4 linked regions of the Homo sapiens genome follow. The protein of the gene in region 2 interacts with the protein of the main gene of each other region in a pairwise test. Each region holds a gene or a part of one and is shown on either strand. Other genes may lie near its edges.

The links.
Region 1: the proteins of CHIC2 (region 2) and CEP44 interact in binary tests that used the Homo sapiens proteins (3 or more experiments, as listed by UniProt).
Region 3: the proteins of CHIC2 (region 2) and CBY2 interact in binary tests that used the Homo sapiens proteins (3 or more experiments, as listed by UniProt).
Region 4: the proteins of CHIC2 (region 2) and AGXT interact in binary tests that used the Homo sapiens proteins (3 or more experiments, as listed by UniProt).

Annotation. Positions count from the first base shown.
Region 1 is NC_000004.12:174,279,810-174,286,917, reverse strand, and holds the start of CEP44 (centrosomal protein of 44 kDa), read right to left. Parts: upstream 3,008-7,108; 5' UTR 2,975-3,007; exon of another isoform or gene 2,778-2,974; intron 1-2,777. UniProt on the Homo sapiens protein: Centriole-enriched microtubule-binding protein involved in centriole biogenesis. In collaboration with CEP295 and POC1B, is required for the centriole-to-centrosome conversion by ensuring the formation of bona fide centriole wall.
Region 2 is NC_000004.12:54,054,596-54,061,622, reverse strand, and holds part of CHIC2 (cysteine-rich hydrophobic domain-containing protein 2), read left to right. Parts: intron 1-7,027.
Region 3 is NC_000013.11:45,705,319-45,712,345, forward strand, and holds part of CBY2 (protein chibby homolog 2), read left to right. Parts: intron 1-7,027.
Region 4 is NC_000002.12:240,864,246-240,871,831, reverse strand, and holds the start of AGXT (alanine--glyoxylate aminotransferase), read right to left. Parts: upstream 3,009-7,586; 5' UTR 2,967-3,008; coding exon 2,802-2,966; intron 2,663-2,801; coding exon 2,470-2,662; intron 1,189-2,469; coding exon 1,124-1,188; intron 484-1,123; coding exon 383-483; intron 1-382. UniProt on the Homo sapiens protein: Peroxisomal aminotransferase that catalyzes the transamination of glyoxylate to glycine and contributes to the glyoxylate detoxification.

The sequences.
Region 1 (7,108 bases), about 120 Mb from region 2:
TACTGGTGATACCTACTAAAAGCTGACATACATGGGGCCTATGAAACAGGAATATGACTCTGAAGAATGTACACAACAGAAAAACACATACGTGAACCAAAAGATTTGAACGAACTGAGACTTTAAACAAAATGATTCATTTTTTAAAAACTGCCCCAAAAGTAATAGCATGGAATTTATTTCTAAATGACTAATTTTCTTGCATGGAGTGGGACTTTCATTAGATTATCAAAGGAGATTTTTCCCAAAGAAGAGTCATAAATAGGTATATAAACGATTAAGAACCTTTGCTGGAAGGAGGTAAGTTTCTGAACTATAAAAGTCTAGTCAGCCAGTAACGTGAAACTCAATAACTTACATAAAAACATCTACCACAACTGTCCATGGACACTTCATAGAAGAAAAGTAATACATAACAATACCTTGAGTAATGAACCCTTTGAGAATGAAGCTCCTTTAAAATGAAGTTATCACATTAAAATGAAGTCATTATATTAAAATGAAAACAGAACAATTCATAAATCAGGTGAAGCTGGGTTAGTGTGATCTTTTCCTCCAATTCGCATTACCCAGCTGTCCAGGATACAAATCATCCCTTTACACACCGTTTCTCTATCTTTAAATAAGGAAAGGTAAGAAGGTCACCGATTTACAAAATCCTAAATTTAGTAAGCTTCCTACTTTAAGCCCCTCGCCACTCATTTCCACAGCCATTTCCCCAGGGTAGAGCAACTGCTCCCTCTTTATGAACCTACCTTTCTGTTCCTAGTCTCCTTTATCAACATGGTAGGCAACAGCTTATTGAATATACTTTATAGACTTGTGCATGCACATTTTAGTCACTATTTTTCAGCCAATAAATTACTTCAACTAAACATTTACATTTCTAGACAGAGATAATTTTAGGTACTGTCAAATGGGAGATAACTAGAAAAAGAGAAAGTCATCCTGAAATCACATTATACAAAACACTGGCCAAGAAGGTAAACCCTATTTAATATCCTTTAGACTGACTGGGGGTAGATGGACACACGGAAGCCTAAAAGGGATTTCCCAAGATAAGCCTTTACTTTCCTGAAAAACATGAAGTGAGGACTACTCTGGCTTTAACCGCAAAAAATGTATTCTTGGATTTTGCCACTGGCCAATATAGTAGGTCTGAGCTTCTTTCGGGTTCCAGACCCATCTATCGTAACACAATTCTTCTAGGGATACCTTCTTCCCAGTAACTTTAATGTAAATTCTATGTCTTTCCAGACTTCCTTTAGTCCTTCCAGATGTATATTCCATTTTCCCAGTGCAAGTAATTCTGTTTTACGTAACACTTTATGATATCTTCTCACCTTTCCTTTTTCTGACATTTTGGAAAACATTTCAGTGTCTCTTACATGATTTCTACCTCTGATAATGGAATTTCTGACAACAAAGTTATGTCTCTCTTCAGTACCAGTGAATAAATATTTTGAAGAGTAATACAAGCAGAGCTCGTGAACGAGGTAAGTGATAGGAGACAGAAAAATAAAGGGATTTAAAATTGGGATTATCACAGAATAAAATTACAGCTACTGCTCTACATTCTCACAAAGGGCTTTACTAAGTCTACTATAAAATTCAAAAGCCTTAAAAACAAGACATTAAAAGAAGCCAATCTATTACTTATGTACATTTTAACACCTTACTTTCATTAATGAAAAATACTTTTAAAAATTTAACATTTTCAACTTATAGCACTGATCAAAGGCAAACTAAGGAAAAAAGGAGATACCACTCAGCTTGCAGCATAGATTCAATAATAAAGAAGCTCTCAATATTCCTTTCTAGCTTCCTTCCTTGTCTACAAGTCAGATCTGCGCAATTGAACTTGTGGGAGAGGTTGTGAAAATAGTGTACTCTAGCAGTTTAGGATTTTCAACATCGCTCAATCTCATTGCTGTTAGAGGTCATTAAAACAATGCCTCCCAATAGAATGTCACTGGACCAGAGTGATTTTTGTTTAGAATGAAGCAACTACACTGACTCTAATAACAGTCAATGGCTAAGAGTTTGTGACATAGCACATAATGCTCGATATTATCTAAAAACACGTATCAAAAACAAAAAAGTAAAGATGAGAAAAACAGTTTATGAAACTGCAAAAGATATTAGGGAAATACTTCTCTAAGAGATAGGAGAAAGGTCTGAGAAAGGCAAAGCATCGAGAAAGCTGGGCGGGAGTGGGGAGGAGTAAGGGACAAGTAAAGAGTTCAACGGGACTGCTGTGTTCACACATAAAATTAAAAGGTCTGCAGATAATTCGGGAAAAAAACAGTCTAGCATGGCCATAATTCCAGAGTAAAAGAGAATAACAACTTCAAGATTAACTTGTTACAGTGAGGGAAAAATCTGTAGCCTTCAATAAAGGTGGAGAAATATTTGAAAAGCTGGGGAAATGCCAACAAGGAAAACACGAACTGCTGTCCTGTCTTCCTTATAGTCAGGAGCCGTTTGTATCCTCACCCCAGAGGATCCAATAGGAATCAGTAAGCCTATAACTTTCCAACCCTAAGTCACAACCTAATTCTGATAGGATGAGCTACCACGATACTTCCCACTTCGTTGTGACTAAAAGCATATACTAGTTGGGTATATAAGCAAGGCTCCCCTCCCGCCATTTGATTTAAAAGAATGAAAAGGCGGATCTGGTCATTCGTCTCCGCCCGGGGTCTCTGTAAGGACGGCGGAGAGAGGCGACCTCCGCCCAATACCAGGCGCAGCCTTGCCGTCTCCTCGGGGCTCACCAAGCAGCCACCAGCAAAGAAGCCGGTTTCAAAGGCCCAGCACGACAGGGAGAGGAAAACGGAGCATATGCAACCATACACAGTCACCAGAGTCCAGCCTCCCGCAACCAGTCGCTACAGCCAGGCGCCTGCGCCCAGAAGCGCTTCTCGCGCCGACCGTTTGTATTTGGAATTGTGGGTTCCTGCCCGCCACGCACCACCGCAAGACCTTCAAAGCTGGGAGCTTCTCTGTGCTCCAGGATTCCTCGCTGCCGATTCCACACCGCGTTCAAGACTCCTGTGAAGAGCGACTCCGCTGAGAGCCTCCTCAATGGCCAGTCCACTTCTAACTTGCAGCTGAGAAGTTTTTCTGATCTTGATGGTCAGAGTGGCTCGTGCTACGAAGTGAGAAACAAGGAATCTATAGCGAATCGTAAACAACAGAAATAAAAATGCGTCTCCGTTAAGAGTCGGAGCCTAACGTCACTTCCGGCAACAATAGGAAACGTCAAAATTGGGATAGTCGGCAGTTCTGGCCCCTGCAGCTGGAGGTACCCTGAGTTCTGAGGGTCGTAGTGCTGTTTCTGGTATTCTCATCGCGGTCACCTCTACCGGTGTGGACAAGTAAAGTTTGAATCAGCTTCTCCATGGCCTGGGCACCAGTTCCCGGCTGAGCCATTTTCCTTTTGGCTAAAAGTCCCCGCCCAGAGGCCAATTCGTCGCGGCGGCGGTGGAGATCGCAGGTCGCTCAGGTACAGGAGTCAACCTAGATATTTTAGATCTCTTGTCTCTTTTCCCTGTTCACCTTCACTTTTCTCGAAAATAAAGACAACCAGTGCTTGCCAGTTGGCCGAAACTGGCCGACCAGCAAGAGTTTGCGACCAATGACAGTGCGAAGCATCTTGAGTGACAGTAGTGGTGGCTCATTAAAGTGAGGAATCACTGTCAGGAGGCGGAACTGGGTGTGTTCCTTCTGTTTCTAGGCCATTGGGGTGTAGTTCGGTTTAGGACTCCAAGTAGTAACCCAGCGTCATTGTGAAATAAACCTGAGAAATGACAAGGGTTACTTTCTTCAGGTCCAAGTGTTGGTTTTCGGGTCGAGTGTTATTTTGGTTCCTAGACAGTTTTTGGTTCTTTACCACTTTCCAGTAATATGAATGCAAACACAAGTATAGTTAAGATCACGATGGATTGCTAGCTGCTACAGTAGTCAAACTTGGGTTATAAAACTTGTCAAACTTGTCTTTTATTTGTTTCTCAGCGACTGGGTTCTAATCTCTTACGTAGAAGGTTCTCAATATTTATTTGGCAAAATCACATAAATGGATCCCAATCCTCAGTCATTTAATTTTTTTAGTTTTATTTTTAGGTTCTGTATGAATTTACTAATAAAATAATTGATTCTACTTGTTTTACAAGTAAAATATTCATTTTCAAGGCTCCTAGGTGTATATCCACAAATGAATATATCATGATTTTTATTACGGTAAAGTGAAGACAATTTATGTTTTCTATTTCAGCTTTCCTCTTCCTTCTTTTAATGTTTGAAGTAATGTATTTCTGAGGTAGGAGCTCTACACACTTCTCAACTCTACCCTTCACGAAAATGATATGTGAAACAGAGTAGGTTTCAGAATAAAGAATGCATAAGTTTTATTATTTTTTTCATATTGGGTCAGAAATTCATCTTTAGCCAATTAACCTGACAATATGTCTGATGAGGTACTTCATTAGTTGTCTATTGCTGGGTAACAAATTACCCCCAAATTTACCCCAGCTTAAAACAACAAATATTATCAGTTTCTGTACATCAGGAATTAGGGTGCAGCGTAACTTCATTTAATAATAAGTTACAGCAAATTAACTAATATTACTTGGGGCCCTTGGATCAATTACTTCCATCCACAAAATATTATAGTAACTTCTAGATAAGCCAAAACATTGATCATAATTTATTACATATGGTCACTTTAATGGGGAATGTTTTGTGTGTTTACTGTTGCTAGGTTAAAAGATATCTTCCTCATTTTACAATATAAAAACATTGAATTACCAAATCTTTAATCACAGTGTGTTGAAATTAGTCATTCAGATTTGTAACTTTATGGTTTATTATTTAACCAACTGCTAATGTACAACTAATTTTTTCCTCATTTTGATTCAGATTTGGAAACTGGCACTATTCCATTGACTGACCCATGATAATGCATCAAAATCATTAATACTAAAGTCTAAGAATTATGCATTTAATTTCTGTTTCTTTTTCTTGAATTATTTTACTTAAATAATTTTTTAAACAATTTAAATGAAATACATCTATTTCTGGAAATTTATGTTCACTATTTCTTTTTCGTTTTGCTCTCATTGTTTTGTTTTTCTGACAAATTTCTTGACTTAGCTCTCTAATAAACTAAAACATTTTTGGCTGACTTGAATAAATTTATATCATATTTGGGGCAAGTATTTTTTTGAGACAGATTTTTATTCTGTTGCCCAGGCTGGAGTGCAGTGGTGCGAACAAGACTCACTGTAGCCTTGACCTCCTAGGTTCAAGCAATTCTCCCTCCCACCTCAGCCTTCAGAGTACCTGGGACCACAGGCACACGCCATCACGTGTGGTTATTTCTTTTAATTTTTTTGTCTGACTGTGCTGCCCAGGCTGGTCTTGAAGTCCTGAGCTCAAGCGATCCTCCTTCCACAGCCTCCCAAGGTTCAGGAATCATAGGTGTGAGCCACTGTGCTGGTGCAAGTACTTTATAGCAATATAAGATAAAAATATTTGTGGTTTGGAGTTTAGGCAACAGCTTTAGGGAGTTTAACCATTTAGTCAGCAGTTCGTGTATTTTTCAAGAATAGATTGCATAGGATTCATAAGCTATTTGAATGAAGGAACCAGATTTTAGCAAGTAAGCCAAGCTTGGAGAGACTCTATATGGAGTAGTGATTTGTGGAAGTCATGAATATAGGGAAAAAAGAGATGGAAAGGACAGATGTTAAATACACACACACGCACGCCATCATCTCTTCTTTTATTTATTAATTTGTTTTTCAGAGTTTTTTCCCTCATTTTATTTTTATGGGATCACAGAATTGTTTCTTCCAATTTTTAAATTGTAGTAAAATATACGTAACATAAAATTTACCATCTTAACCATTCTAAGTGTACAGTTCAATGGTATTAATTACATTGATAATGTTGTGCCACCATCAACACCATCTATCTTCATTACTCTTTTTATCTTGTAAAACTGAAACTCTATACCTATTAAACAATAATTCCCCTTCCCCATTCCTAGGTCCTAGCAATCACCATTCTACCTTTTGTTTCCAGTTTTGGAAACCGGAAGTGTTTGTATTCATATTACTGGAAAGTGGTAAAGAACCAAAACCTCATATAAATGGGCTTATCCAGTATTTGACTTTTTTTGACTGGCTTATTTAACTTGGCATAATGTCCTCAAGGTTCATCTTTGTTGTAGCATATGCCAGAATTTCTCTTCTTTTTAAGGTCACATAACATTCCCTTATATGTGTCAGCCACATTTTGCTTATCCATTCATCTGTTATTGGACACCTGGGTTGCTTCCATGTTTTAGCTGTTGTGAATAATGCTGCTATGAACATGGGTGAACAAATATCTTTTCCAGACCCTGCTTTGAATTCTTGAGGGTATATACCTGAAAGTGGAATTGCTAGATCACATGGTAATTCTGTTTTTAATTTTTTTTTAGGAAGCTCCATATTGTTTCCGCAGAGGCTGTACCATACGTATTACATTCACATTAACAATACATAAGGGTTCCAGTTTCTCCACATCCTTGCCAAGACTTATTTTTTTTTCGATAGTAACTATCTTAATGGGTATAAGGTGGTCCCTCATTGTACTTTTGATTTGTATTTCCCTAATGATTAGTGATGTTGACTGTATTTTCCTGTGCTTATTGGACGTTAGTGTATTTTCTCTGGAAAAATGTCTTTTCAAGTCCTTTACCCATTTTTGAATCATGTTTTTGTTATTGTTGAGTTAAAGGAGTTATCTGTAAATTATAGATATTAGATTTTATCAGATACATGATTTTCAAATATTTTCTCTCATTCGGTGGGTTGCCTTTTTACTCTGTTGATACTGTCTTTTGATGCACAATTTTTTTTTAATTTTCATAATGTTCAGTTGGTCTGTTTCCTCTTTTGTTGCTTGTGCATTTGGAAATCATTGCCAAATTCAGTGCTGTAAGCCTTTTGCCCTGTTGCCCTGTTTTTTCGTCTAAGAGTATTACAGTTTTATGTCTTAGATTTAAGTCTTTGATCCATTTTGAGTTAATTTTCATAGATAATGTTGGGTAAGGTTCCAA
Region 2 (7,027 bases):
CACATTCAATTTTTCTTGCTTTAAATATAAATGGGAAGAGCTATTAGAACAGTTGTAGTAAGACTGGCTAAATTTAACACCCCCTCCTCCACCTTTTTTTTTTATTAGGTGCTGATCAGAGCAGTCTTCCCTTACCAATTTGAAAGTAATTGACCATGTAAACTGAATCATCTGTAGTCTAGATCAGTCTAGAAGGATATAGATCAATCCATATGTTTTTCACAGATGTAACTTTTGAGTAGCCCTTTACAATTGACTATTTCTGCTCTTTTTTTCTACTTTAATATATTACAGTATTACTGTTTATTTTAGAAACTGGTATTCTCACGTGACGTGATTGGCATGTCATTGTGGTGATGTGAGAAAGAAAGTTACCTTCCATTCTCTAGGTTAGTCTCTAGGCATAATCAGATTTTTGTGACATAGGATGCAACATGTTTAATTTGCCTAAAGTCTGCTTTAAAGTGGCTTTTAATGCAAATATTTTCCTTTTTTTAAATACAAATGTTTTCATCGTGACCCCCAAATCAGACTTACTTTTTATACTTCTCTCATGATCAGTATTCTTTTCTGACATTCTTCTGTTTAAGTATAATATTTCCCTTCATTGTTAGATTTCTAGGTAGCAATATGGGGAAATCTTGTGCAGAAGCATATTTTGAGGAAAGTGGTATTGGAAGGAAGGAAAATAAATGATAAATTCCTGTTATTGCATAGTATTTAGGTACATGTAACCTAAAAGGCTTACAGTCACCATTCAATTAAAAGTAGATTTCCTTTTTGCTTTCATGGTGACTTCTCATATAATTGACGATGAGGAAAAATAGTTTCTAAAATAAACAGTAATACTGTAAAAAGACTATTAGGTAGTCTTGACCAGATTGGTTAATATTTTAAAATTATGGAGTTCCTTATGCTTCAAAATATATTTGCAAAATATGTTGATCATTTATTGAAGAGTTTCGTTTTTCACAGTGGTAACTCTAAAGGATGTGTCAGTCTAAAAGTTAGAATTTAAAAGTAGTTTTAGGCCAATATTTCCTAGGTAATCTGTCATTATAACAGACATTATTTGCTCCCATCTCCACTTTCTACCCTTCTTGTATCAGAATCAAACTTGGGGCTTTCCTAGAGTATGTATAATCTTTGACTTCTAACTCAAGCCCTATCATAGAGCCAAGTTATTTTGCTGAGGTTTGTTTCTAATGTTATTCTCTTGTAATTTTACCGTGTCTTCATGTACTCTCTTCTGAGGTGTAATCTTACCATCTCCACAAATAATTCCTTATCCTTCAACACCAGTTTTTATCAATGGCTGTCGGAAACCACTTTTTGCTTGTTTTCATTCCAGATATGTTATGGAAGATTAAAGATTTAGAAATGTGACTTGAAAATGTTTGGGAACTACACTGGGATGGAATATGACTTTTGAATAAGAGACATCACAAGAACACCTTAGTGTTTATTGATCTTTCAAATGGTAGAGTTAGTAAAAAATTGTCTTGAAATGTGTCAGTATTTCAGGACTGCTGCTAGATGCTGTGGTTAGCAGTAAGAGACCTGAATGTGAGTTGCCAAATTACAGAATCATGTCAATAAAACAATTTTGTTAAACTTTATAATTCCTACTTCTTTCTCCCACCCAGCATAATATTTAAGACACATTCTATTTATTTCTAAAGATTAAGCTTTCTGTTTTGAAATTTTTGAAGGCTTCATTGATGTATCTCCACAGGCTATAAGTTCTTGAGGGCAGAGGTTGTGTCTATTGATCTTTCTTTACTATTTAATATAGTGTCCAGAATATTATAGTTCCTATAATATTTTCTAAATGAATGAAGTAATTGTATACATCTTTGGATTTTGTCAGAATTGCCAAATGAATCACTGTTTTCTTCTCTGCACCTCCGAACAAAGGCAAACAATGTTCTATAATAGAATACTTATCACACTGAAAAGATAAATAGCTCCTCTGTTTTAAAAAATGAAATCTGGTAATTGTGAGGAAATTATCAAATTAAGGTAGATTTTTTTTTTATAACTTTTTTTTTTTTCTCCAGAGATTTTTGTTTTCTTTTTTTAGAGACAGAATCTTTCCCTGTCACCTAAGCTGGTGGGCAGGGGCCTGATCACAGCCTACTGTGGCCTTGACCTCCTGGCTCTAGTGATCCTCCTTTCTCAGTCTCTGAAGTAGCTAGAACTACAGGTACACGCTGCTATGCCTAGCTAATTTTTTAAAAAAATTAGTTTTTTGGTTTTTGTAGAGATGGGGCTTCACTGTATTGCCAGGCTGGTTTTGAACTCCTGGCTTCAAGTGTTCCTCCTGCCTCAGCCCCCACAAATGCTGGGATTGTATGTATAAACCACCATGCGTGGCTTCCCAGAGATTTTTCTTATTCCATATAGTTTGAGAGGAAATTAATTTGATTATAATTTGGTAATTTGATATAATACATATCTTTGGTAATGTGAAGAAAAAATTCTATGCATTTTATTTGGACCAACTACTAAAACTTCTTAATGCACAGATTTTCTTGAAGAAATGAGAAATATGATAATTAACTGAGGTTTCAAAGTTTTTACTGTATTTGAATTTGAGAATTTATATGACATTTGGTCCAAAGAGTTCAGTGTTGGATTTTTGCCTACCAAGGGATATGAAATTGATTAGTACTTAAAATTTTATATGACTAGCTAAGTGGAAAAGAGGGATTAAATGGTGAAAAGTAAATTATATGTAATTATTATGATACTAATCAAATACTATTCTAAATAATTTAAATAAATAATATTACTCTAAAGCAGAATTCCAGCTGGAGTTTATACTGTCAACAGGTTAAAGGCCCAGGATATTAGGCCAGCTGTATACTCAGAAAGAAATCTTTCAAATCTCTAATAGCTGTGTCTGGCTTAGGTTTCTAATCTGCTATAAAGCTATTTAGATTTTATTAATAAAATTAAGCTTTAAATATAACATGTAGCAACAGATGCTCTTAAGTATCCTTCAGGTATCTTCTGTGTAAGATTGTGTGTGTGTGTGTGTGTGTGTGTGTGTGTGTGTGTATGTGTGTGTATGTGTGTATGTGACTTTTGACCCAATCAGAATATTGGGTCTGGAAGGGAAGAGTCTAGGGATTTTTATTTTTGGTAGGAGTGTTATGTGATTCTATCAGACATATTTGGAAAGTAATAGATGGTACTGTGGAAAAAGTGTGGTCTTTGATATGAGGCAGATTGGTTTCAATTCTCAGTCACTTCCTGACAGTAACCATAAGCAGATTAACCTTTCCGAACTTCAGTTTTTTCATCTGCGAAAGAGATAATATCCACCTTAGAGGTTACGTGTGAGAGTCAGAATTTATCTAATTAATAGGCATTCAATAAATTATTACTTATGACATATTTTGATGTTTAACCCTGCATGCACATTTTTTTGGTTATTCTTTACCATTTTGTGGGAAGTCAGTCTAAAATGTGAAGTATGCTTTTCTGCTTTAAAACAAGATTCTGAGCATAGCTCAGAATTATCTAATTGACTAGAGGAATCATTTAATCAAAAGCGGCTATCAGATTGATACACAGTGATGCCTTAGTGGCCCTGAGGTATGTTGGAGTTTGAGAACCTTCTCTAAATGGCACTTTCATTTAAATTTCATATGTGGGCTGTTCTTTTTGGTTTGCTTTCTTCTGTCTTTGTAATTGGTCAGCTGTTCTTGGAAGCAAAACAACCAACCAGCCTTATTAGAACTGCATATAAAGTAAGAGAAGTTCATCCTGATTGTTGAATGTAGATGCTTGGGTTTTGATGCTTGGGTTTTACAATATTTATTTTGTTTTCTCAGAGTATTTTTTGCTTAATCTTTGATTATCAGCTGTCTTGTTGAGGTTTCCTGATAAGTAATTTAATGAGTATTTGTTAAATGCCCATTTTTCTGCCAGGTATTGCACAAAGCTCTGGGTATATAATGAAACCCAAAATGAAACACACATAGTTTCTGCCCTCATGGAGTTTACAGCTAATAGACAAATTTTATCTGATAAAGTTGCACTGAAGGAAATGGATGAGATCCTGTGATTGAAAATAATGTGATTAGGAAGAACCTCTCTGAGGAAGCTAACATTTAGGAAGGATGAGAGTCCTGTCAGGAGCCCCTGGATCTGGAGAACAGCAGGTGCCAAGACTCCAAGCCAAAACAAGCTTGACTTGCCTGAGGAACTGAAAGGATACCTCTATATTATGGCTAGAATATAGTGAACAAAGGGGATAATGTCTTGAAATGAGGTTGGAGGGTTCAGTAGGGGCCAGAAAGGATTGTAAAGGAATTAGAATGAAATTTAGAAGGTTATAGAAGCAGCTTCCATAAGACATGATAGTGGCCCCAGCTAGGGTGTTGATCTCTAGATTAAAGGAGTTATTACAGTTCTGTGTGTAAACCATCAAATTTCACAGCTTTTCCTATGAGGTATGGAAATACATAGCAGTGGCCACTTTTGCTGTCTAATTCCTCAGTTCTTATGTTTGTTTTGGTCTGTTTATTTTTTAATTTTAGCTTTGTGTAGGCTGAGGTTAAATAACTGGCTACCCTTACTGTTCACTGGGAGTGATTTTGATGGCATACCTGCACTTTCTGTTCTGCTGCTGGGGCAGCTAGTATGCCAAGAGAATAGCACATGCCAGAAGTAGAGAGTGTTTCCCACAAGATCATAGATTTTGAAGTGGGAACCCTCGTAAATGTGATATCCTTTAGCTGTAAGGTGTGTAGTATGTGACAGCCCTCAGTACATGATTCATTAGATTTGAGGAAAAAAATTGTGTTTTTTATATCTTACATTTAAAACTCAGTTGCATCCGTAGGAGCTGAAATGTTCTCACAGTGTCCCTGAAGAATAATTTTTTTGTTCTTAAGCTTTTTTTCTCTCCCACTATCTACTTAGGATAGAGTTGGTTGGACTTGAAGGTAACCTAACTTTGTTATTTTGATTGATAAAAAAAGTGAATGTACTATATATAGTGAGCTTCCTGCAAGAACTTCTTGTTTTATTCTCTTTGATCTTGCATTGTAGTCATAATGTGGGCCTTGGTTAGTTCAGTGGTGGAGTTCCTATGTACCCAGTCTCCTTTCTTGGTCTTTTCTAAACTGCTCAATTATAAATGTTACTTGAAATGAGTATTTTTGTTAGTCTATATTGTAAATCAATTCAACCATATATTTTGCTTAAATGAACATAATTTAGCATCATTATTTTGCTCTTAAGATTTATAGAAGTATGAAGAATATTCTAAAATATGTATAAATCAGATATACAAAAATCTTTTTTCTGTAGTTCAGAAAATTTAAAAGTTGTTAAGTTAGATCAGCTGCATCCCTATATCGCCAGAAGTTAGTTATACTGTGCATTTTCATCAGTATACACTTATATAGCTTTCACTGCTTAACAACATATTTAATCTGTTAATAATGGAAATTATAACCTTAATAATTAAAAATTGATAAAATGCTAATGCTAGATTATTATAAGACTATGTATAATGGTGAGGTTTATGATAGAGTAAATTTAACACATGCTTTGGAGAATTAAGTCTTTGATTTCACTAGTTTCCTGAATGAGATTAAACTTTCATAAAACCAGATGAACTCAAATATTGTTCAGAATGTGGTTACAGAGTTAAGATTTTTAGAATTATTCTGAAACCCAAATATACGTCTCCAACTCCAGGGTCTCTGTATCTTTTGTATAAATAGAGTATACTTTCAATTAGATCCCATCCTCCTTGAGCTACATTGATATTCAGACGTATGTTGAATCAACCAGATAAACTTAAAGCATGATTTATATGCATCAAAGCCTGTTAATTTTTTTCCATAGTTATGACTTTATCTCCAAAACTAGCTAAAAATTTGAGTTCATTGAGCTCAAAGTTCAACATTAGGAAATAAGCACTCTCTTCATGTGCCATCTGCATAACCAATATGTTCAGTTTGAAATTTCTAGTTCATATGCTCATAGGTCTTGTCATATCTGTAGGAACATAAAAATTCTCTGTATCTATAGATTTGTACAGGTGGAATGTCTCAGAATCCAGAATATCCAAAATGGAATTCATAATCTACACCCCAAATCAGCTTCAACGGCAGCCTTCCATTCTCAGTTGATGGCAGATCGAGGACCCTGTTTGTTTAGATCAAAAACTTTTTGATGTATTCTTGATTTTCCTCTTTCTCTTTCACTACATCCATTCTGTCTTGACATCTTGGCTCTGTCTTCAAAATTTGGCCCTATTTTGCCACCTACACGACTGGAGTGAATTGCCAGTCTCCCTTCTGCCTTACGCTTAATGTATTTCTTAAGTCAGTTATGGTGGCATGTACCTATAATCCCAGCTACACGGGAGGCTGAGGCAGAAAGATCACTTGAGCCCAGGAGTTTGAGACTACACTGGGCAACATAGCAAGAATCCATCTAAATTACAAAAAATATATATATATTTTTTTCTTCCCCCTGTCTCCACCTTTCCACCTTTGCCTCTCCTCTTATACAACCATTTTGGTACATCTGCTATAGTGATCCTTTTAAAACATAAGTCAGTTCAAGTCTTTTCTCTGTATCAGGCCCCTCAAAGGTTCCCCATCTCCTTCAGAGTCCTTTTAATGTTCTACCAGACCCTCCCTGATCTGGCCCATCATTACTTGTCTGGTGATCTCAGTTTCTGCTTACTATTGGCTTCAGTTTATTTTGATTTCTAATTATCGATGGCTTTACTACATCTTGACTTCAATTTAAGCCCTCTCTCTGTCAGCTCTGCATGTTACCATCTATTTGTCTTATGTTCAGATACCTCAAGAGAGAGCTGATTGAGTTAGTTAATGTTATCTAAGTTAGGCAGGACTGTTTGGCCTTGCCATTCCATGTGCTGCTACCCAGCCCAGGGATTAGCTGTTCTTAAAGCAGATGCCCACTTGTGATCTAATTAGCCAAAGTATAGGGAGTTCCTAGTTAGGCATGCGGAGTAACAGACTACTCTCTC
Region 3 (7,027 bases), on a different chromosome or scaffold from region 2:
GAATTTCATTAAGGCATTGTTTACTCCTAGATCATTAATGAAAGAGCTACACCAGGTCAGACTGAGCTCCAATAGCACCCTCCGGTGCCTCCTTCATCCTTCCCAGTTGCCTTTTCTCCTTCCCCTTTGTTTGTGCTTGTTACTCAGAAGCAGTGAATTCCTGCTGACAGCACCCGCCAATTTGAATTCCCAGGAAGATTTCAGGAGAGTCTCTGTTAAACAGTATGCAAACATACTACATATGACATCTTCTTTATCCTCTTTGCTGTTAACGTTGTAATTCTGTCAACATCAATCACATTTACCTTGTGAATTATCCTTTTACCTGTTAGTATTTATTAAAACCACCATTGACTTTGCCATGGTACCAGGGAGCTGAATTAATTTAAAATAATGATAATGAGACTCAGCCTTGTCATCTCATATGAAAATCAGTATCATATTTGGCTTTTCCTTCCAGAATCCTGGGTCCTCTCAACTTCACATGCTTTAATAGTACCTCAGATGGCTGAATGTTCTCTGATAGTAACCCTCAGTAATGTTGGCAAAGTTGGTGTTTAAGAAACTTGGTCAGCAGGCTTGGACTCTATCAGCAGTGTTTGGACATCTCTTCTGGGCTGTGGTAGCCACATTTTTCCAGGGGTGGAGAGACATCAGTGTGTGTCAGCTAAGCCTGGCTAGTTGCTGTTCAATCCCATCCCCAAACTCTTTGGATGGGAAACCACACCCCCAGTAATTCTATCCCAGAAGGTCCCACCCAGAGAGACCTGTTGCTACAAGTCCTGTAGCACTAGTAAGAGATTTTGGTCCTTTCACTTCCCCTTTTCCTTTTGCCCTTTGGCCTTTGCATTTTGCCTCCCTTCTTTCAATTGTCCCCTTCCCCCATGTTCTTCACTTGCCACCAGGTTGGTGATCTGACAAAGACACAGTTGTTGGCAGATTTCAGGCATTTTCCTTCCAGGACCACTTATATTTACCAAGGAGGGCACCAGACCTAATGCTAAGGAAGAATTCCAATCCACAGATGGGACTTCAGGCTTCTGTGAGGGCGATGTTCGTGCCCATGGCCCTTCCTGGATCCCTGTCACTAATGCATCATTGGGTTACAGCTATGAGCACATTTCCCCTGAGGACAGAGTCTCTTGGCACCTTTCTAGCACCCGACAGGAAGGCATGATGAGCCCATGACCAACTTATTCCCCTTCTGCATCAGCTTCATATCTCATTCCTCCATGAAGAAGCCAACCTTTTTCTTTCCTACCTACTGGATCTCTATGTGAGGGCATTTCCTAGAGACCAGAAAAGAGACAATCTTTTATTTTCATGGTCAGTTGCACCATGCTACACAGGCTGTACCTCCCAGGCTTAGGAGAACATTACTGGGGTGTTCTTGGGGCTTTGTATTGGCATAGACCTCTTGTCAAGGGCTAAAGGATATCAGGGCAGGTTAGCTTGGCCCATGAAACCAATCCAGTGATACCACTGGTCGAGGAGTCCTACTGAGAAGGAACTGGCTTCTAACATAGGCCAAGGAGGTCTGGAATCCTGGAACTGCATATGTTCGCTGAGCTCAGATGCTTAGTTTTTGGGTAGCCCTTTTGTAAAGAAATATACTCCACGTTGCATAGCGCTTTAGGCTGGGTATGTTTAAACCTTACCAGTAGAACTGACCATCTGTTTAGTCTTTATGACAGCTTGGCTACCACTTTCTTGTCCTCTGGCAACCCCAGGAAGTAGGCAGAGCAGCCATGTTTAGGCTTATTTTAGAGGTGACATTCTGAGAGGCAAAATGACTTTCTCAAGAGCAGTCAAAGGAAGGACTTTTGAGCCCAAAGTTACTGGAAATTTAGGGCGTTTACCCTCGTTGGATTATATATTCAAGATGATGAAAGGGACCACTAGCGTGCTTGTGTGCAGGGGGTGGTGGGAGCTTCCTCTAAGGGAGTACATGGATGAACCTAGGGGTTTGTGGAATTCACGTGAGGAAAACTCCATGCTTATAGATTTTACATCATACCATAACAGCTTTGCCCTGGGACTATTTTAAAGTCTTAAAATATGAATGGAAATGAGGATATAGCTTATCAAATACACTAACTATATTAAGGCAAAAGAAATGGCCATTTTTGTAGGCCAAAAATGGTAAAATGTTAACAGTTTCTTATGGTTCAACCTAGTATTTCCTCCCAATCTTTCAGTGTATTTTGGTTGATTCAGTTATTGCCAAGGACTCATTAAGCCTCCACCACATGTGAAATTTGCTTTCTAATTCCCAAGACTTGGGATGTCACAAAAACAAGGGATAGGTCACTGTGCTTAGATAATTGCAACTTACTCATATGGGGAGAGGACAGGCCTGGTTGTAAGAGAACCATTGCAAAGTAATGATATTAGCACATGCAAAATAAAATGTCTGAGCATTGTGAAGTGCTAGAATAAACATGGAGTTTGGAGTCAAATATCCTCATTTTAAACCCTGGTTCCACTCCTTTATCAGCTATGTAATCTTATGCAGAATCATGCCAGTTCTTTGGGTAAGATATTACATATGAATACAGAAATCAATTAGCATATAACCTGACACATTATAGTCACTCAGTGTTATTTTTTTTCTTGTTCTATATAATCTTTCTCTAAAGAAATGCTAAGCAATGTCTCTTCTAAAAGCCCTTCTTGTATGTCTGCAGCTCTTTATAAACAAAGAAAATGTTCCGAGTCTCCTTTTATTTCTGAACAACAAACCCTCTGAGAGAAGTAGGGCAGATGTTGGTGAGGTCGTTATAGAGGGTTGTACAGGTTGTGCCCTGCAGTAACAGTGAATAGCGCCTTTTAGAGTTGGGCATTTCAAAAATATATGGGTTGGCCCTGATTCATTCATGTCAACATCCACATTTTCTAGGAACTAAGGCACAGAAATGAAGTGACTTTGTAAAGGTCATGCACTCATATAGTGCAGAGCCAGAATTCTCTGGAGATGTTATCATTTCTAGTCCCCTATTCCCCACACCTTGCTGCCTGCGTTAATGCTTCCTGCATTTTGACTTCTCTCATTTGCATCAAGAAGTAATTGGTGCTATTCACTGATTCTTCAAATCAACTGGAAATTCCCTGAGGGCAGGGTCTGTGAGCTTGGAACACAGTACGTGCCAAATTAATGTTAGTTGATTCACTGACACTAATGTAGGGGAAAAATTGGTGCAATAACATCCTGAGTGGGTACATGACTAGGGTGAAGAATTTTCACAAGGCCAAGAGCTTTCCTTTAAGGATTAAATCCAGCTAGCTCTGATCAGAATCAGAGAAATGCTACAGGAAAAAACAAGTTTGTTCTGGATCAATGTTTTCCTGAAGTTCAATCATGATCCTTGTCATGTCTAAAAATGCCTGTATATTTAATATAGGTATGTTTTCCCATTACTCATTAAAATAAGTATATGACTACTGAAAAATTTTTAAATGTTCTAAGAAATTAAGCCATGAGGAAACACTGCACTTGACCACTTTCTTGGTCCTGTCTGAGGATAGGAGGAAAGATAATAGGACTCAGTCATTGGAGAAGAATTTGGTTTCCTGTTGAGAAAGTAAAGGGGACTTATTTGTCCATCAGCATTTCCTGGATTAGGTGCTGTGGGCATGGAACAAGAGAAGGCACAAAGCCTGCTTGGGAAGAGTTGGCCATTTAGGGGAGAGGACGAGATGCCAACTAGGTTGGTAAAAGAGGGCTGCTGGGGCCATAGTGGTGCCAATTTACAAATGCAAATCCACTGGACCAGAGACAGTTAGGCCAAGAGAGCACTTAGAGATAATGACTCTTACCCTTCATTTTACAGAAGTGGAAACTAAGGTCAGAAAGTGAGTGGATATGAGCAAGATCACCTGAATGTGTGAATAAAGACCAGGGCACAAACACCCAGGTTGTCCGTGGCTAGGGATCCACCATATGTTAAGGTTTTGTTTAGTGTATTTCTGTTGAGGGGATGACAGAATGTTCCTTGGGTACCCAGTGTGGAAGGTGGATGTAGAACACAGGCAGCTGAATGCCATGGGTTAAAAGCCATCATGGCCAAATATGGACAGGTAGAAAGCATCCATGATTCCTCTTTGGACCCTTAGTTGGATCAAGAAGATTGTCTCTCTGGCTGAAACAAAACGATCGTTAAAAAGAAATGAGAATTGGGGAAATTTGAACATGGGCTCAGTATTCGCAGATATTGAGGGATAATTGTTAAATGTTAAAGGGTGATAATGGTATTGTGATTCTGTTAAAGAGGCACATATTTATATATTTGTGGATAAGATGACACAATGTCACTTTGCTTTAAGATAACCTAGCGGTAGGGGAGTGGTTGTGGAATCAGGTTGAGGCCTGGTGAAACAAGTGTGGCCTTGATTTGATACTTGGTGAAGCTGAGTGATGGGTACATGGACATTTATTAGACTATTCTCTCTCTTTTTGTGTATGTTTGAAATTTTCCATCATATAAATTGAAGGAAAAGATATCATGTTCCCCAAAGTACTGCAGGACTTTTGATAAATCCATGGTGGTTTCCCATGTGTGTACTTCACACATAGAAGGTCAGGGAGCCAGAAGTGGGTTTGTGTCTTAGTGAAGGAGCTAGTGCTGGTTATTTAACATCTCTGAGTTTCAGTTTCTCCATCTGTAAAATAAGAATAGTAATAATATCTTACATGTCAGTGTGGTGAGGATAAAATGAATTTAGTAGGTAGAATGCTCAGCTCACGGCCTAGCATGAAATTGAGGCTTAATATTTGTTTCCTTCTTCCATTTTCTTCTCAGGACTGGGATGCACATGTTGACTAAAACCACATTTTTCCATGTTGATAGCTTCTGGAGTCAAATCCTGCTGAGATAAAGTATTAGTTCTAGTGCAAGGATGGAGAGAACCTCTTAAGATTCACTCCTGCCAGGCACGGTGGCTCATGCCTATAATCCTAGCACTTTGGGAGGCAGAGGCAGGCAGATCACAAGGTCAAGAGATCGAGACCATCCTGGCCAACATGATGAAACCCCGTCTCTACTAAAATACAAAAAATTAGCCAGGCGTGGTGGCACGCGCCTGTAGTCCCAGCTACTCTGGAGGCTGAGGCAGGAGAATTGCTTGAACCCGGAAGGCGGAGGTTGCAGTGAGCCGAAATCGTACCACTGCACTCCAGCCTGGGCGACAGAGTGAGACTCCGTCTCAAAACAACAACAACAACAACAACAAAAACCACCACCACAACAAAACATTCACGTCTTTGGCTTTGACCAGTCTTCCCAGAAATCCTGGATCTCAGGACCTTAAACCTATCAGAAAATGGTCTAGGTTATCCACAGTGAGGTTCATTCTGATCACAGACAGCTACAGGAGCCAATCTGCTTTCCCAGTTGAGAAATGTGAAAACCAGGGAGGCTGAACTTTTTTAAACTAAATAAAATTCCGCTTGCAGAATGCCCTCATACCCTTGCTATCTGGAAGATTGAGCGTATCCTTACAAAGTTAATGACATGTGCTTATTGCAAAGTTAATGGCATAGAACTGCATCTTCTATTTATCTAGCTCTTTAAGTTTTAAAGAATTCTAACCAACTTTATATACCATGCAAATTGTGTTTCTCTCTCTACATACACCCACACATATATATATAATGTAGTTAGCCTGACTTGTTTTTTATTTTCTCTATCTGTACGGTTGTGAAAGTAACCTAAGACATAAGGAATTGATATCTGGAGAGCATTTTGATATACTTGGATGAAGTACTTTTGGTGTATTTGGAAGTAGCTATCATGATCTGTTTACTTAAATTCATGGCTGCAATCATCACCTCTTCTCTAGTGTGCATTCTACTTGCTCACTTCTTTTTGAATACATCTTATAATTCTTGCATTAGTGAAATCTACTCTTCTTGATAATAATACCTTATGGTTCTTTGGCACTGTTGGTTTTAAAAATATTTTTGCATTCATTATCTCATTTAATCCTCACAACAGTGTTGTGAACTAAGCAGGGCACATATTATTTCTATTTTACAGGTATATTTCATTGACTTTTCAATGTTGGAAGGTGCCTTTAAGATCATGGAGCCCGACTCCCTCTTTTTCACTCGTGAAAAGTCTGGGTCTCAAAGAGGATAAGAGAGCTGTCTGGTTTCAAAGTGCCCATCAGTGACAAAATCAGGATGAGAATTCTTGTGACCTTTCAGTCTGTAATGCTGGTGCAACCCTCACTTAAGCAAATTGCCTATTCTACTTGACTTAGATCTGTCCTAACCACCTGCAGCCAGGAACACCTGAAGGAGCTGGTTAGAAATGCAGATTCCTGGGCCACACCCCAGTCTGAGTAAATCAGACTCACAATGGGAGGCTCAGAAATCTGCATTTAAAACTCACTGGAGTTATTTTTCTGTACTGGGATGTGTGAAAGCTACCAGCTCATTGGAGTTAAGCTCTGTGGATCTGAGCCCCGTTTTATGCTGTGGTCTTGAGGTCTATGGCCACCATCATGAATTCCTCAGGGTCCTTGACTGGCTTTATCACCACATGTTGAACGCTCATTGCTCAGTGATATGTCTGGGATGGGTTTTCTTTCTTTCCAAAATTATTAGTTAGACTCTGCTTTGAGTCTAGCATTGCATTAGAAGCTGGGGTGAATGTTTAAGGGGCTGCTAGCAGAAAAGACTCAAGGGTGGCTAAGAGTGAAGGATATGCCCAGATGGGCAAGAGAGAAGGCTGGGCTGACCAACGGCACCGCCATTTTGGACACAGCAATTTGGGTGGCTGTTTGGATGATTCATGCTGCTTCTCTGCTCATGCTAAGTGTGAGTACACATCTGTGGGTGGTGGCCCTTGAGAACAGTGTTTGTTCCTCCTTTAGGGTGACAGAATGTGCCAGAGCCCATGCTTAGTGCTTTTGTACATTGCCTTTTTTAATCCTAAAAATGTCTCTATGAGGCAAGGAGTAAATGCAATTATCCCAATTTGAAAATGTGGAAATTAAAGCTCAAATAACTTGCTCAAATTCTTGT
Region 4 (7,586 bases), on a different chromosome or scaffold from region 2:
ATGCGGGGATGAGGGAGGCTGGAGGAGGGAAGTGGAGGGCATCAGGCAGCTTTAGTGTCCTGGCAATCTCGGGGTGAGGTGGGGACAGGCCCTGGCAAGATATGGAAGTCTGCACCAAGCCCTCTTCAGCCCTGGGGACAGAGGTCAGTGGGCACTATGGGGGCGCTCGGCCAGGGAGCACCTGAGCCTGCCCTGGGACCTGGGGTTGTCTTTAGACTCAGCCCAGAGCAAAGAGGACCTGGGAGGTGCCTGCACCCCATACCATGTGACAGAGGCTGGGGTGGGGACCAGGGGCAGAAGGACCAGAGGGACCAGTGCCCACCCCTCCCCATAGCCTGGCTCTGAGCTGTGCTCCAGTCCACCGCCCTGGGGCCAGGCTCACCTGTGGCAGAGTTCCCCGAAGCCATCAAGGGGCTGCAGCACGCCGGTGGACGACTCCCCGTGGGTTAAGAACAGCAGCACTGGCTTGTGCTGGGCCAGGCCCTGAGGAAGCAGGGACGGCTGTGGGTGGAGCTCAGAGGGGCAGGGGCCAGAACACCCCCACAAACCCCCCATGGGTGGCACAGCTCCAGGTAGCAGGGGCTGGGCCTGCCTCTACTCCTCCCTGATGGTGTGCATGGGAGGAGGAGGCTGGGGCATCTCCGCTCCGGGACAAGGGCTTTTCCAAGAACAGGACTTTGGTGCAGAGATGGAGGAGGGTGCCCCCAGCCTGTTGCCTGGCCTGTGAGGGCTGTTGCTAGATGGACTGAGTCCCCACACTCCGGGTAGGCTGAGGTTGACTTCAGCCCACAGGGTGGGGTATCCTGAGTGTCAGGGACATGTTCTGCAGCCTAGACTCCAACTCGGCCTCCTGCCTCCAGCCTCTCTGGCCCTGCCTACAGGACCAGGCTCCTGACTCAGTTTCCCTGCCAGACAGAAGCCTCCTTACCAGTCTTCCCACCATTCCCAGGTAATGGAACCCTCCCCTGTGGCCGCTCACCAGATGCTAGGATGGGCTGAGGGTCAGCCACCAGCCTCCCGGCCATGATCCCACCCTGCTGGCTGGCCAATTCCAGGCAGCCCCTGAGCCAGCATGCCCACTCCCACCTCCTCCCGGCCCTGACCCCCACCCCGGGTCCCCTACCTCCTCCACCTCCTGCAGTGTGTAGTGGCCTCCAGGGTCCTTGGTCATCGGGTGCACTCGGGCTCCTGGGTGCAGGACAGAGTGGGCCGTGAGTGTCCCGCACACACTGTAGAAGCCAGTGTTGGGCACCCGTGGCCCTGCTGAGCAGGGCCCTGTGAGGGCTGGACCCCACCCACCGTGGCACCCTGGCTGCCTGCCTGAAGAGGAGGGTGGACTCTGCCCAATGAGAGCCTCTCTGTGTGTAGAGCCAGGGCCATCTTGACCCCCCTGCTGTTGGAGCCAACGCTCCTGGGGCACTCTTGACAGAGCTCAGCTCAAATGCCCTTTCTCAGGCCACACTGACCAGTGCCTCCCCAAGCAGAGAGTGAGCTCCCGGGAGTCAGGGCTGCACCTGGCCCAGGGCTGGCACAAAGAGTGTACCTGGTCCAGGGCTGGCACACCACAGGTGTGATGGATGACAGACTGAAGGATGAGGGGTGAGTGAGGCAGCAGCCTTGACCTCTGTTGGAGCTGGGGACTCCAGGAATCAGGCCCTCACCCCCTCCCTGTCTCTGCCCTATCCTGTGTGCTGTTCAGGGCCAGGTTGTGGGAGGGGAAGAACCTGCGGCCAAGGGGACAGAATGGGGAAAAGGGAAGCCATATACCACAGGCATCTGAGCCTGCGTGCCCTGATGTCCACTTGGGGTCCTGGCCTCTGCCGACCCTGGGTCCCCTTGAAAAGTTTGTGGACTTGGGGTTGGGACCCTCTTGGCTGTTGCGGTCGCGTATTAACCAGCATGGCCATTGTGGAGCTCACCAAGCTGATGTCCCTCAATGCCACAATCAATCATTAAACCCAGGGCACACTCCTGCTCCTGTGTCTCTCCCAGAAAAGTGTACTCCGGAGGCGAATACTCTGCCCATACCTCCATATTTTGTGTATCACATCAAGATTCCAGAAGGAAGGCTGCTGAGATTTGAGGGGAGGCTTCAGCTTCTGAAACCCCACCCTGTCACAAAGCAGAGCTGGTGCCTGGGGCCCTGGACAGCGGCCGGGGCTCTCAGGAGTGTGTGCTGGGACCAGAGGCTTCCCTGTAGTTCCGTCCTGCACATGCTCCAGAAACAGCTCAAGGAGACTGGGGGGATCGGGGCACCTGTGCTGCTCCCAGCCCTATCAGAGTCAGGCCTCATGAGTGCCCGACACCGCCTGGAGGAGGCAGTGGGCTGGCAGGAGGTTCGTGCGCACAGGGCCACAAGGTGGGTAAGCGCTCACCCAGGAACGGGGGCTGCCAGCTTCAAACAGAGGGAGGCCAGGGAGGCCTTGAAGGATGGATCCAGGGCCATCCCCACCTGGGCCTCTCCCTTACCTATGCGCTCCCCGATGTCCACGGCTCGCTGCCCCCAAATGCCATTGGCCCCAACCAGGAAGGAGTCCCCAGGCTCCAGCACATTGACCAGGGCGGCCTCCAGGGCACAGTGTCCCGAGCCAGAGATGACCAGTGTGAGTGGGTTCCTGGTCTGGAACACGTACTGGATGCCTTCCTTGATCTCGTCCATGATCTGCATGCGGGTGGTATAGGGTGAGACCCAGGCTCCCCGCCTCCCCAAGTGAGGAGGCAGTGACCCCCTTCCCTCGTCCACGATCTGTGGGTGGGAACATGGGTGAGACCCAGGCCCCCCGAGTGACCCCCACTCCTACCTGGTACATATCCTTGCTCATGGACCCGATCATCTGCAGCCCCCCGGCTGCCATGATGCGAGGAGGCAGGTTGGAAGGACCAGGCCCCAGCAGGAGCTGGTTGGGGATGGAGAGGGGCTTGAGCAGGGCCTTGGGGGGGGTCACCAGCAGCTTGTGAGAGGCCATGGTCCGCACCCAACCTGCCGCTCGGGAACCTGGGGCTGCACTGGCCTTGGCCAAAGCCTGGAATATTTCCCAGCAGGGCGGACACAGAGGTGAGAGGTGAGGATTGGTGGATGGGCTTCCGTGGCAGCCCTGCCTTTTGTTCCCTGAGGCTTATCTGTGCTTGTGCTGCGGGTCACGGCCAGGCAGCAGGGGACGAAGCCCTCAGGCAGAGGGAGCCCCCAGGGCTGAGTGACAGAAAAACAGAGTGTGACAAAGCTGTCCTCACCCCAGCCCTCCTCGCTCCCACTCTGAGTCCTGCACGTCCAGCCCCTCTTATTCTGCTTAGCTCAGGGGTGAGAGAAGTGTTTCTTAAAGGGTCGGAGCACAGATAATTGAGGCTTGGCAGGCCCTGTGGTCTATGTTGCAACAACTCAACCCTGCTGCGTGCTTGCAAAGCAGCTGCCAGAGGTGTGGGCGTGTTCCTATAAAACTTTATTTACAAAAAGCAGGTGGCAGGCCAGATTGGGCCCATGGACTGTGGTTTGCTGACCCTGGCGCAGCTGATGGGAAGGCTTGTAAACCAAAAATAAAATTCGAAGGCCCCCCAGCAACCATCTGAATGGGGTTCCCTGTCCGCCAGGGTGCTCTAAACTTTAACCCGGAAGACGTTCAGGCCATGCCACATCATAACCCCCAGCATTAACATCGACATAGACCTTAAGTCTGATAGGAAGCATTTACCATCTATTTTCTCTCTAAATCCCGCTACCTGAAGGCATCATCTGCTCCCTGCAACCCCTATTTCATAACCCAGACACTCCTTTCTGCTGATAATAATTCTTCAGTCAGTTGCCAATCAAAATATGTTTAAATCTACCTATGACCTGGAAGCCCCCCAATTCAAGTTGTCCCGCCCTTCCAGATGGAACCAATGTAAATCTCCCATGTATTGATTGATGCCTCATATCTCCCTAAAATGTATAAAAGCAAGCTGTGCCCCGACCACCTTGGGCCCTTGTGGTCAGGGGTGCACCCTTGAGCTTGGCAAGGATGTCCTCCCTCCTGAGGCTGTACCACGGGTGCATCCTTAGCCTTGGCAACAAAAACTTTCTAAATTAATTGAGACCTGTTTGAGGTACTTTTTGGTTTACAGGCTCAATTTAGCAAGCAAACCTGCATGGTATACAGACACACACAAGGCAGGGGTTGCACAGTGAGTTTCAGCATGCTGCATTCCAGAGATGTATAGAAATTCTAGTTATGTATAAGTTTTAGGTTGAAAAGAGGCCTGGAACCAGGTGCCAACTTTAGATAATAGGGAAGTCTAATTCATTCTACATTTCTCAAATAAAGAGGCTCCCCTCCACCCACCCCACCTGGGGCCTGCTTGATGGTCTCCAGGTGATCTTTGCTGTCCTCATTTTCCCTCTGACAAATATCTTGGTGAAATCTTTGACCCTTCCTTTTCTGCCATGCTCATGTCCACCTGCTTCCTGTTGGGGTCTCAAGAAAGGGGAAACGGCACAGTGAAGAGGGGTGTCCAGTGCGCCTGACTACTTGCTGCTGAAAGGGAGTTCAGGGGGGTAGGTCACGTTTTTCCCTTTCTTGCTCTCGGTCATGAAGGGAATAAAGGGTCATGAAAACTTGTGCACGGAGGCACGTGATGGGATTCCATCAAGAAGCCCCACGTAAATGGGAGCTGCAGTTGCAGGCCGGTATTTCCATCAAGAAGCCCCATGTAAATCGAGCTGCAGTTGCAGGCCAGTGTTGGGAATGCATAGCCTTCTGCAGGTGGAATTGTTCTCATGTAGAACATAGAAAAGCAATCAGAGCATTAAAAAGGCAGGGACCAAATATTAAAAGAAAAATGACAGAAGATAAAGGTCTAAGGAATGGGGGAAGCCAAGTGATTTTTTGAAAACCAATCAGTAAAAGTTTTGGCCCAGTCTTGGTTGCTTTGGGAAAGTGTGTGTAGCCATTTGGCTTGTTTGATGATTTCTTGGGCATCGGTTTCCACTTCTCCAGACACATAAATGTAGGTGCAACGGGTCCTGTTGATGACAGCACAGACCCCTCCTTGTTCAGCTAGGAGGTAATCCAGAACTCACCTGTTACCAGACACCAAAATCCTGCTTGTGAGTCTAATGACTTGTAGAGCTGATAGATGGGTGCCAGCTTTTGCTATTTCAAGGGAGGCGGTAGGTTCTCTTACTTGTGATTTCCTGGTAAGTAAAACCTCCCCAAGGGGTAAGAGTTGTGATAGTTCCCACAACTCCGGCCACAGTAAGTCCCAGGGCCCTTTTCCTTCTAGAAGGGAATTCTGAATTAGAAGTGATGTTTAAGACAGTGATTTGGGTGGGAGCTATTGTTCCCAGGCTACAATCACCATAGTGAAGAGAATGATCAAGGTGGGATAGGGCCAAAGCTTGAAAAGGGTTTAAATAGTTTTTAGTGGGGCTGCTAAGCCATAAGAGCCCAGGAGGGGCAGGATGATTATTTTAATTAAAATGTTGGGAAAAAAGGAAATGGGCCTTTTGACAGTTTTAAGAGGACTCATATGGGGGAAAGACTATGTTTATGTACTGATGGAGGAGGTTTAAAAGCAGGCGGGTGCCAGTGCATGGCATAGGATGTAAACCAGGTGGCACGGTGGTTATTTCCTGCACTGGTTGCATCATTATAGTAACATACATGAAGGTATTAGGAGTGCAGGGGTGCTGTATACTGGGAGCCCCACTATACTGGTCCAGTTTAACGGCTTATAAATTGGCAGTGATGAGATAGAGTCAGATTTTTTTTTTTTTTTTTTTTGAGATGGAGTCTCACTCAGTTGCCCAGGCTGGAGTGAAGTGGTGTGACCTTGGCTCACTGCAACCTCTGCTCCTGGGTTCAAGCGATTCTCCTGCCTCAGCCTCCTGAGTAGCTGGGATTACAGGCACCTGCCACCACGCCCTGCTAATTTTTGTATTTTTAGTAGAGACAGGGTTTCACCATGTTGGTCAGACTGGTCTCGAACTCCTGACCTCAGGTGATCCACCCACCTCTACCTCCCAAAGTGTTAGGATTACAGGTGTGAGCCAGCGCACCTGGCCAGAGTCAGAGTTTTGATTGTAGGAGGCGAAGGCCTCAAATGAGTCAAAGTTAGCTGCATGAGTGTCATTATAACAAGGTGTACCTCCCAAAATAACATTACAAGTTAAGGAAGTTTCAGTGATATTGTAAGTGTGGATGGTGGGGGAAGTAATATGATAGCACGAAGAGGGAGGTGGTTTCCAATTTACCAGCACAGAAGGAAATGGTCGGGGTGGGAAGGAGTGGTGAGAAGAATAATGAAATCCCAACAGTACAGTTTGATTGGAGACAGGGTGTGCTTACGAAGAAGAATCTACATGGCTTGGAGTAGCAGGTTGTGGACGGCAAAGCCAGCCACACAGAGTATTTTCTCCTCTCACAATAGCATGTGAGATGCTGAAGATGATATTGTCAAACCAAGAGGATTGGGAAGTTTTTATATGAGAGATAAAGAGAAAAACATGAAAGAAAGAAAAAAGGAGTCTCATTGTTCTAATTCAAGGACTGTTACAAAAGTTGCTCCAAGTATAATTAGAAAAACCACCCTGCAAATAAAAATCTAGTGCAAGCTGAATAATTGTATGTGGGTCTTGAGAAATGGGGATTGGATAAAGAGACAGTAAATTGGCTGGGTGTGGTGGCTCATGCCTGTAATTCCAGCACTTTGGGAGGCTGAGACGGGCGGATCACCTGAGGTCAGAAGTGTGAGAACAGCCTGGCCAACATGGTGAAACCCTGTCTCTACTAAAAATACAAAAAAAAAAAAAAAAAAAAAAAAATAGCCGGGCATGGTGGTGCATGCCTGTAATCCCAGCTACTCAGGAGGTTGAGGCGGGAGAATCACTTGAACCCGGGAGATGGCGGTTGCAGTGAGCCGAGATCGCACCATTGCACTATAGCCTGGGTGACAAGAGCAAAACTCTGTCTCAAAAAAAAAAAAAAAAAAAAAGTAAGTGAATTGAGGATAATCTCAGAAAATTGGAGGACCTAAAAACGCTTCTAGAGTACATAAGGAAATGAATGACAAGGGAGGGAAAGGAAAGTGAATGATAAACACAGCAAAAGGCTTACGTGGTATCCTTTGCTTTTGAAGAGAGGTTAGTGTCACCTGGTTGTTTGCAAAACAAAAATCATAGATCTTCCAAGGGCTCAAAGTGTAAGCAGGCTGGAGTTCTGGCGGCAGTACAGACTTTATGTGGCAAAGGTGGACCCAAGGGGAGAATCCCTGCAGTTAACAGCTGTGGGAGAGGCTATGAGGACTTGAAAGGGTCCAGTCCAGAGGGCTGGAAGGGGTTTTCTGTCTGGAGGCAAAGTTTTTAAATATACCCAGTCCCCAGGTTAACAGGAGGTCTTAGTTCTGATGAGGAGGGGTCAGATTTTGGACAAAATTTATCCTGGTATTCAGTAGTGGCCTGGATAGTTTGCCCAGGGAGGCATCACATTGAGACAGATAATGAGCCTCTGGATCAAGTAATAAGTCCGTTTGTAAAAAGGGGCATCCATAAATAATTTCAAAAGGGCTAAGGTGGGTTGAAACCTTTGGGAATTACTCTAGATCTTAACAGGGCA